Homo sapiens: one gene and its partners. The gene in region 3 interacts genetically with the main gene of each other region. Each region holds a gene or a part of one and is shown on either strand. Other genes may lie near its edges. The genes, in order: MRPL32, KRAS and LARS1.

What was found.
Region 1: changes in LARS1 (region 3) and MRPL32 together harm fitness less than expected from each alone (positive genetic interaction), as found in Homo sapiens cells (one large-scale study listed by BioGRID).
Region 2: changes in LARS1 (region 3) and KRAS are lethal when combined (synthetic lethality), as found in Homo sapiens cells (2 studies listed by BioGRID, with this or other methods).

What each region holds. Positions count from the first base shown.
Region 1 is NC_000007.14:42,935,376-42,938,515, reverse strand, and holds the end of MRPL32 (large ribosomal subunit protein bL32m precursor), read right to left. Parts: intron 1,353-3,140; exon of another isoform or gene 1,275-1,352; intron 1,195-1,274; coding exon 940-1,194; 3' UTR 659-939; downstream 1-658. UniProt on the Homo sapiens protein: Component of the mitochondrial large ribosomal subunit (mt-LSU). The mitochondrial ribosome (mitoribosome) is a large ribonucleoprotein complex responsible for the synthesis of proteins inside mitochondria.
Region 2 is NC_000012.12:25,219,870-25,223,527, forward strand, and holds part of KRAS (GTPase KRas), read right to left. Parts: intron 6-3,658; exon of another isoform or gene 1-5. UniProt on the Homo sapiens protein: Ras proteins bind GDP/GTP and possess intrinsic GTPase activity. Plays an important role in the regulation of cell proliferation.
Region 3 is NC_000005.10:146,123,642-146,127,299, forward strand, and holds part of LARS1 (leucine--tRNA ligase, cytoplasmic), read right to left. Parts: intron 2,905-3,658; coding exon 2,794-2,904; intron 446-2,793; coding exon 341-445; intron 1-340. UniProt on the Homo sapiens protein: Aminoacyl-tRNA synthetase that catalyzes the specific attachment of leucine to its cognate tRNA (tRNA(Leu)).

The DNA of each region.
Region 1 (3,140 bases), on a different chromosome or scaffold from region 3:
CTACTAAAAATACAAATATTAGCTAGGCGTGGTGCCAGGCGCCTATAATCTCAGCTACTTGGGAGACTAAGACAGGAGAATCTCTTGAACCCAGGAGACGGAGGTTGCAGTGAAGCTGAGATCAGGCTATTGCACTCCAGCCTGGGCGACAAGAGCGAAACTCCATCTCAAAAAAAAAAAAAAAGAAAGTTAAGTTAAAGAGCCTATTGCCTATTGTTACAATGAGATAAAATTGATAAAACGTGAAATAAACTAAAAGGACATATTAAAAGAAAAATGCAAAGAACATTCGTATCACATTTTCAGTGTGCTATGGAATCTGCTCACATCTTTACTAATAATCTCTTCCAAAACATAGGCTATCTCATATATTCTGAATATGATTTTGATTTAATGTAAAATGTAAAGAAGTACTTCTATCACCTAAGTAAATTAGTATGTTTCATAAAAGTAATTTCCTCCAAAAGCAATTTTAATTTGCTAAGAGAAAAATAAGAACAAAAACCATTCTTACTGCCACACCTACCATCTTAAAAAACAATACCAAAAATGCAAATAATAACCTATTTCCATGTGTTACTTAAATGGAGTTATCTGTGTTAAGTATTCTTGTCTAAGAAAAGGCACTGGCAAACAAAACCAAAGCCAAAACACAGAATTTTTGCTATGAATTTTAAATTTTTTATTTTTGTTCTGGAAATTTTATGTTTACTTAAAACCTTGTATATAATAGAAACATAATCCATTGAGCCTTTGGATAAACAAAATTTTCGGAGTTTACTCATAATATATTCTTCAAATTATCCCACACAAAACTGCTTAGAAAGAATGTGTTAAACTATACTGATGATTTAAAAACAAGCACAACAACATAAAGAATCTTCCTCTATTTCAGGAGAAATGATTTACTGTGAAGTTACCCTTTTAACATCTTTGGTGTCAATTCTGGGTGAACCAGGATGGTCGCTTTCTGTCTCGTTCAATGATCCTCTTGCCCTGATCTTGTTCAGACGGTGTCTCTCCCGTGTACAGCACCACAGTCTCTATGGTGGGAGCCTTAAAAGGGCCCCCTTCTTGCTTCCCTATCTGTCGTCTGATTTCTGCAGTCTCCTTGCACACCTTTTCATAGCAGTAGGCACAAAGGACATGTTTCTGTTTCAGGTGACCACATTCAGGACAAACGTCTATGTTGTTCTTTAAAACAATAAACAAAAACGTATTTTAACATGAGGCAATATAACGAACAAATAACCACTGACAGGAGCAATGCTTACATTTTAACTTTCTTAGGATGTTCAGGCTACATGAGGTCATCATACACCATCTAGTTCCACCTCACTTTAACAGGAAGACTGAAGACAAGCAACACTGAGTTTGAATTAGAGAAAAACTAGAACTAGAATTCAGCCAACCTGAATCTGGTATCTTTACTTAAACACAGCAGTTGTAGTTATGTAAAAAAGAAAAAAGAAATACTCATTTCCCCTAACTCCAAATACTAAATATCAAATAAGGAATTTGTCAACATAATGAAGTGACCCAAACAATCAGCATCTTAAATAAGACACCAAGGAAAAGTGAATTCCCTTTGTCTTTCAATCTATCTTAGGGAAAACAAGATAAGAACATTACAAGTTGACTTCCTTGGCTTCCTCTTTTTATCACAGTGTAATTCAAATTCCTGTACAGAATACAGGTTTCGTATATGGTATAATTTTTCTTTTTAAAAATGAACACTGATTATTCCTTAATGTAAAATTATTTTCTATGTTACATTCTTAGGGTATTTTAATGATATATATATGTGTGTGTATATATATATATATAGAGATAGATATAGATATATATATATCTCCAACTTTAAATATAAAATAGAAACATTATAACCTCTAAAAGATTTATCAACTTATTCTAGATGTAGGTTTGAAAGAAAATACAAAGAAAAATACTAAACAGGATCATTAAAGAAGCTTTAAACACTTGATAAGATTAATATACTAACATTTGTGAGGCAGATAACAAAAGAATTTCCTTTTCTGAAAGGAAGAAAGAGGCTTGTATATTACTTGCCTAACCATATTCTCATTTTGCTCCACTACTGGAAACTGGATTGCATGCACAACTGAAGGTATGAAGACACCCACAGTCAGCTGGTCTTCCTTTCGTGATCAAAGTACCCAACATAACACACTATATACCGTATGTAACAGAAAATAATTCAAGGAAGAAAATAAATGCACAGGATAAGAACTATTCCTTCAGAATAAATGCGATCAGGGAAGTCACATAATAGATCAGTGCAAGATCTCATTCCTAAAATCTTACGTCCTCTTGAGCAAATTTATGAATTACTGTAAGTCTTAAGTAATAAAGTGTTTTTCAGTTCTACATTTAAGTTCAGCCCCAACCATCACTCAATAATACTTTCTGGCTTAAGTTCTAAGGTTTTGCTTAACAGAATGTGGATGCTTATGAAAGTCAGCTTTCTGTTCTCGAGTTTCATCTGTATGGTGCTGCTGTTGTGGAACGCCATGAAGTAAACAGTAACTGAAATCCTAACTGTTAAAACCATACATGAACAGATCAGAGGTAATACACACTGTAATTTTTCTTTACTAGATCAATGAAGACAGTACATCCATGTTGTCAGCGAGGAGAATCTGAAATTGTCTGAGGATAGGAGAACACAAAGAAAATCTTTAAAAGAACATGAGGTCAAAAATCAGAGCTCGAAAATCTACTGCTTCATAGCTGTGTGACCACAGGCAAATTCTTTTTGCCTCAGTTTTTTCATCCTAATAATGAAGAATATCTTATTTGCTTTGGAGGGCTATAAGACATGATGAGATATAATAAACATAAGGCACTGAGATACATCATAGACACTTAATTGTTGTTAGCTATTATATTACTTATCTTAGGGTTTTCCTTCATGGTATTTTGTTGGAAATGATAAAAAAATAAAACAAATATGTAAGGGCTTGTAAAACCCAAGATTCAGTATACCTACTGCTTCTAGCTTTAATTCTAGGCTCTGCCATAGTTAGGATGTTTACTCATCTGTAGTTCAAAACTCACACAGCTCAAGACTGACACAGCTCACAATTCAGAAGTCATGTAGGCACCTCACAGCCTCGTTC
Region 2 (3,658 bases), on a different chromosome or scaffold from region 3:
CATAAGGAGGTTGTTTTGCAAAGCATTCTTTAACGGGGTTCTTCTAACAATTAATTTAAATATCTAGAAATTAACAACAAAACCAGGAAATGAATCACTCAACATTTTTAGGTTCGTAAAACTAATTTTCACATTATATTTAAATTGAGACCCCCAGAGAGCAGAAAAGCCGAATGAGGAGTAACAGATACCCCGAAAACTCTGCTTCTGTTATTCACCTTACTGAACCCTCCCACTTTTGATTTTAGCAGACTGGAAAACACACAATTCTCATGGTGTCAATGTTTCAATTTTGACAGCTTTTGCCAACATGGCCATGCACTGTCCAAAGGGACCAGGAAAATCTGTCAACAACCCAGATAAATGTGAACTAGGTAACAGTCCTTATACACTAGGAACATAGGGACTACACAATGTACTAGCAGAAAATAATTCTATTTGCCTTTCAGATATGGACTGAACTGAGTGTAAAGAATATGTAACGCATTATATTCTAGCCAAGTAATTAGCTTTTTAAAATTATAAGTTATTAAGTTGGTAAAAATATATACCCTGCAATTCTTATCTTAAAAAGTACAGCTGGGCACAGTGGCTCACGCCTGTAATCCCAGCACTTTGGGAGGCCGAGACGGGCAGATCACGAGGTCAAGAGATTGAGACCATATTGGCCAACATGGTGAAACCCCGTCTCTACTAAAAATACAAAAATTAGCTGGGCGTGGTGGTGTGCACCCATAGTCCCAGCTACTCAGGAGGCTGAGGCAGGAAAATCGCTTGAATCCGGGAAGCGGAGGTTGCAGTGAGCCAGGATCGCGCCACTGCACTCCAGCCTGGCAACAGTGAGACCGTCTCAAAAAAAAAAAAAATACTAGAGACCAGGCACAGTGACTCACGTCTGTAATCCCAGCACACTGGGAGGCTCAGATGGGAGGATCACTTGATGCCAGGAGTTCAAGACCAGCCTGGCCAACATGGCGAAACCCTGTCTCTACTAAAAATACAAAAATCAGTCAGGTGTGGTGGTGCGTGCCTGTAGTCCCAGCTGCTCGGGAGGCTGAGGCACAAGAATTGCTTGAACCCAGGAGGAGGAGGTTGCAATCAGCCAAGATCCCACCACTGCACTCCAGCCTGGGTGACAGAGGGAGACTCTGCCTCAAAAAAAAAAAAAAAAAAAAAAAAGAGTACTAGGGTAAAATTTCTATTTCCTTTCCATGAACTATGTTAAGTTTTACTTTAAGATTATTAAAGTTAGCCTGTAAAATACAAAAGTTTAACCTAACTTCTAGTAGCTAATCAAACACTAAAGTTACCCAGAGAATTAGGAATCAGCATATTACAGCCAATGGACCAAATGCAGCCACAGCCTTTTTTTTTTTTTTTTGAGACAGAGTCTCGCTCGGTCGTCCAGGCTGGTGTGCACTGGCTTGATCTGGGCTCACTACAGCCTCTGCCTCTCAGGTTCAAGCAATTCTACTGCCTCAGCCCCTTGAGTAGCCAGGATAACAGGCACCCGCCACCACGCCTGGCTAAGTTTTGTATTTTTAGTAGAGACGGGGTTTCAACCACGTTGGCCAGGCTGGCCTCGAACTCCTGACCTCAGGTGGTGTGCCCACCTCGGCTTCCCACCTCATTTCTGGGATTACAGGCATGAGCCACAGCATGCGGCCAGCCTATTTTTATACTATGCACAAGCTAACAACGATTTTTGCATTTTAAAGGGTCATAATTAAAAAAAAATGCAACAGATACCACTTGTGGCCCTCAAAGCCTAAAACATTTACTATCTTGGCCCTTTACAGAAAATATTTGCCAGCCTCTGATTTACATGGATGAGAACTTCTAAATGAATGTTTTGTTCCTTTAACCGGAATATAATTCTTTTTGGGTGTTTACGTGTTTTAGGCTCATGATCAAGACCCCAAAAGTTAGGGCATAAAACAACTTGCCGATAAAATACAACAAGGATATGCACACTAATTTTGTTTAAAAAACAAATAAGGGCCAGGCGCGGTGGCTCATGCCTGTAATCCCAGCACTTTGGGAGGCCGAGGCAGGTGGATCACGAGGTCAAGAGATCGAGACCATCCTGGCTAACACAGTGAAACCCGTCTCTACTAAAAATACAAAAATTTAGCAAGGCATGGTGGCGGGTGCCTGTAGTCCCAGCTACTTGGGAGGCTGAGGCAGAAGAATGGTGTGAACCCGGGAGGCGGAGCCTGCAGTGAGCCAAGATCCCACCACTGTACTCCAGCCTGGGCGACAAAGCAAGACTCCGTCTCAAAAAAAAAAAACAAGAAAGAAAGAAAAATAAATAAATAAATAAATAAATAAATAAGCTGAATAACAGATGAGTAACAAAATACTCTGCAGAAAGGAGGACTTGACATTTTCACCAGTAACTGGAGATGTAAAATTTATTAAAATTCCCATATTTCATTTTATAATCTCTACAGTTACTCGGAATAGCTCTTTAAAGTCTTCCAGAAGCATGCAAATATCAAATTAATTTCAACGGAGGAAGATTAATAAGACTTTTGAAAGGCAAATTAATTTCTAGGCAAATCAACAAGTCCATTTAATAATAAAAGGAAATCAAAGAACAGAAATTAAATATCTAATTTATAGTTTAGCAACATAAATTACATAATAACATCAGTGAAACAGGATGTAAAAGAAAGGTTGAGTGCTCTGTTAAGAAGTACAAGTATTCTTTCATACTGTATCCCTCCATTTTTAATTAGATGATCCACATAAAAATGTCTACAAATCAAATTTGTTTATCTACTTACATATTATATACCTTCAAAAAAACAAATCAAACAAAAAAACCCAAGGCCACAAAACTGTATAAAACCTAAAAATCTCTTATAAAAGGAAGCCAGATAGTTTTCTGATCAAATATGAATGCTGTGTTATATTAAAGTATTAAGGTCAAATAGCAAGAATCAATTAGTACTTCTGAGGTAGTAATCATACAACCACCAAAAAGGAGACACAGCTATTTTAGGATATTATCAAATGAGAAGTGGACAGCAACAAAGTGGGACTAACAAGACTCTTTTTATGTCCTCTACTGCTTTTCTACTCAAAGTATGGTCCAAGTACCAAGAAAAATACCACCTAGGAGTTTGTTAGAAATGCAGACTCGGTCCCCACCTAAACCTTCTGAATTAGAATCTGGATTTTAATAAGCCCAGCTGATTTGTATGCATAAGAAAATATAAGAAGCACTTCTTTACTGCAACCCCTTAAAACATTATGCAAAGTCTCTTAAATTTTTTCTTTTCTTTGTGAAATGTAAGCTAAAATGTTCAGTGGTATAAAAAGCATCTTTTAAAAGTTGTAAGTAAAGCAAATATAAAACAACAATGGTAGAATCTAGGTAGTATATTTGCAAATGTTTTAAATAAAACTCAATTTTGTATTTGAAAATGTTTCATAAGAAAATGTTGGAAGAAAAAATAATAAATATTAGAATCATGTTTTCTCAGTACCTTCTCTCCTAAGAAAAGTCAAGGAGACTGTAAAGACAGTAAAAAGAAAAACAAAAACCAAGCCTCTTCCTGGTCTTTGGAACCTGGAAATGGATTTATGTGAAATCTTAATTCCTCTAAAGTAAAGTGATATATGATATACACCAAGTTTAACCTATAAATCA
Region 3 (3,658 bases):
AATTCAGAGTACTCCATAACATGAGAGGCTTGGAAAGCATTTGAATATAAGGTCTCTTAAAAATAATTTGCAGTAGAATAGCCAGATATACAGTTTTTTAATGTATAATTGATTATATGTAAATTAAGAATTGATGAAATAAGATGACATATCACTTTTTTTCCTGCAACTTTTATACTCACCCATTTTTCTTCTCTCCAAAAATATTTTCGACTAATATATTTAACAAAGATACTAAACACAGAAGATGAAATTTATAAAAAGGTTTATTATAAAATAAAAGAGCTGGATTATGGTTTAACTACAGTTAACTGGTTATTACAATCCCTGGCCCTCTTACCTCAAGCGAATTAGTCAGATAGACTATATTCTCCATAAGCACAGCCTTTTCATCAAATTCTAATTGCAAATCCAGAATACGAGGCCCCATCTTCTCCAGATTTTCCTAATAGCCAAAATGGTATGGAAAAACAAAATCACAGTAAGAATATGTTGGAAAACATACTTCCTCCAAAGTAATCATTCTTCTCTCAACTGATAAAATCTTCAGATTTCAGGAGTTAAAGGAAAGGCCTTGGACTCATGATTTCCTTTACCTACATTTGCTTGTTAATGAAATTTACTAGCTCCAAATAATTATCTTTTAAAGTATTATAAGATTATGGCAGCACTGAAAAGATGGGAAGGCACAAGGTTTTCAGATTTATAAAATAAATACGGTTTTATGATTGTTTATTTAGACTGACTTAACATGCAAGCCCAAAGAATTCACTTTACAGGGAATCAGCCAAATGTGTGAAAATATCCCTTTAAGTTACCCAAAAAAAACAAAATTTTAATTTTCTGAGATACCACCTTCTTAAAGCTGTTTCAGAGAATAGTGAATTAATAATATCCAAACAAAAAATCCCCAAAGATATTTCTGCAAAGTTTAAAGAAAAAAAACTCATACTACATGAGTACTCAAACATGGCATGTAAAAAATAATTTCTTATTCTTAATTTTCTTGGGTAGTCAATATTTGCTGTGCAAAATAGAATCCTAGAGATCCAAGTACATATGCAGATATAACTACCTAGAACATGTTATACTTAATGAAAGTGACCTGATATTATTCCTGCTACTCACTGTTTTCGCTTACTATGCAAGTTCTATTTCTTTTTCTCATGGAAGTGCTAGAAAGTCATTTTCTTATTCCCAGATGTATTAATCCCTTCCAAAATTTGCAAAACCACTAATTTGCCTGGCAAATCACCAACATAATTTTAAAAATATATTACCACTCAAACGGTCTGATGCTGGTTCTTCAAATTTAAATGAGATCCTAAAGAAGCCAACTCTTGAATCTAATATCATTTTATACACACACACACACGCACACACACACTCTATATATATATACATATACACATAACTACTTTTCAAATAGGTTTCCCTGGATTCTTTTAAAACATGTCATCAAAATTAATTGCCTTTGCAACCATCAATGGAATATTTTGTTGGATCCACATGTTGACAGAGATTTGGCATTATGACCAATGACACTAGCCACTGGGGAACCAACGAACTATGAACATACCAGCACTTACATTACAACTTGATTAGTGTAGGTCAACACAGGATTCTAAATTACTTCTGAAACTTAAAATACCCTGAGGATCAAATAGTGACTTTGGTCTAAGAGAATTAAAAACCTTTTCCAAGAATACTAATCTATTATAATATTGAAGAAGTTAAGAGGTCTGGTCTCCATCAGGCATCTGCAGCCAAGAAGACACAAGAATTAAAGGACAGTACAAGAATAACTACAATATGCTTAGTAGGCTGGAAGATACTAATTTGTATTTTTAAACAACATTTACTGAGCCTACTTCTTGACTAGTGCTACTTAAGTGTGTTAGGTACACTATTTTATTTACTCCTCACAGCACTCCTAAAAAGTTTGGTTCTATAGTATCCTCATTTTATGGATGAAAAATCCTGTAGCCCAGAAAATTTAAGTGATTTGTCCAAGGTCTCAAAACTAAGGAGTGACTGATACACAGAATTTCAACCAAGATTTTTCTGGCCCCATAGCCTGCGATCTTAAGCAATATAAGCCTTCTTTCGGTTTCTTTTTGTCAAGAAATCCAGTAATACATCAGCGACGTATATGAAGAAAACTAAGGGTCTAACCCAATAATTCTCAATGGTAAGAAGTGGAAGGTGATTCTGCCCCCAGCGGACATTTGGCAATGTCTGGAGATATTTTTCATTGTCATAACTAGCAGGAAAGGTAGTTCTACTGGCTTCTAATGAGTAGAAGCCAGGGATGCCATTACATATCCTACAGTGCACAAGAAAGTGCCCCACAAGAACTATCTAGCCCAAAATACCAACAGAGCTATGCTGAGACACCCTGGTCTAACCACTATAACCAATGTTTACCCTGTTAAGCTATACCTATACAAATGTTGAATCCTGGTTCCAGGAATAGGGTCTAGGAAATGCAAGCCTCTATAAGCCTAATGTAAGCCAAAAGAGTTTGAAAGAAGGGAAGGTAGAATATGAAGGGAATAGTTCAGTGCAGCCATTCTAAACCAATTTTTCTCCCACAATAATATTTTTCACATACTCAGCAATTCCACAAGTAAACCCAAAATCTGATAGATCATTTCTCTCAGTCATTGATTGAAAAGTGCTATTTTAGCAGATTTCTGGCAGGAGACTATGTCCAAGGCTTTTCCCCATCCTTCTATTGTCCCATCTAACCATTGCTCATGTGGTCACAGCTGCATAAGGTCCACAGCTTACCTTAATCATGGCAACAAATGGCATGACTTTCTTCATGTATTTCTTCAGTTCTGGCATACTGCCTAGTTCACTAGCAATGACTTTGTTGTCAGGCAGTTTTCCGTTATTGGCCTAAGAAAAGGAAGGAGGGAGAGTAATGTAGAAAAAAAAGTCTCAAGAATAAGGCAGAACAGTAGATGTGACCAGGCATAGAATGGTGGCCTCTATCAATCCTTAGAGAACAGCAGAAAAGTGTCCAGCCCTAGCATCACGGGGAAGTGAAAGCTCAATGAACAATGCAGAAGGAACTCTCCTATTCTCTATAAATTAACAACACATACTTTTTAGTTTAGAAGAGAAAAAGAAGTGATTTGTGTTGAATATTTCTCCTGTTCAGAAACTAAATGGTCTCATAAAAACTTGTTTTCAAATTTCTAAAAGCATTTTATTAGTCATATTAAAATAAAAAATTACACAACTATCATACAAGTTTATATAATGTCTGCTTTTGGACACTTGGAAGAAACTGTTACCACAATTGTGAAAAGAATCCCTAGCTACTGACCTGTTAAAAACAGAATCATTTCTATCTACTCAAAAATAAATGTCCATATCATATATCACTGATGAGTACAATCCAAGTGTGCTTTAAATGAATCTAAATTCATTTCTTTCTACAAATATTAACGGTCCCCTCAATAGAGTGAGAAATAAAGCAACTGGTCTTTTCAAAGTTTTGGGCAACTTGTTTTCTCTTTATTGTAAAAGAAGGGTTGGGAATGAATCTAAATGAAAAGGAACATATAATACAATTTCAAATAATCTATTTTCAATTCTAACTTTTACTAAAGTACATGGGAAAAAAATATTCTACTTGTTAATATAT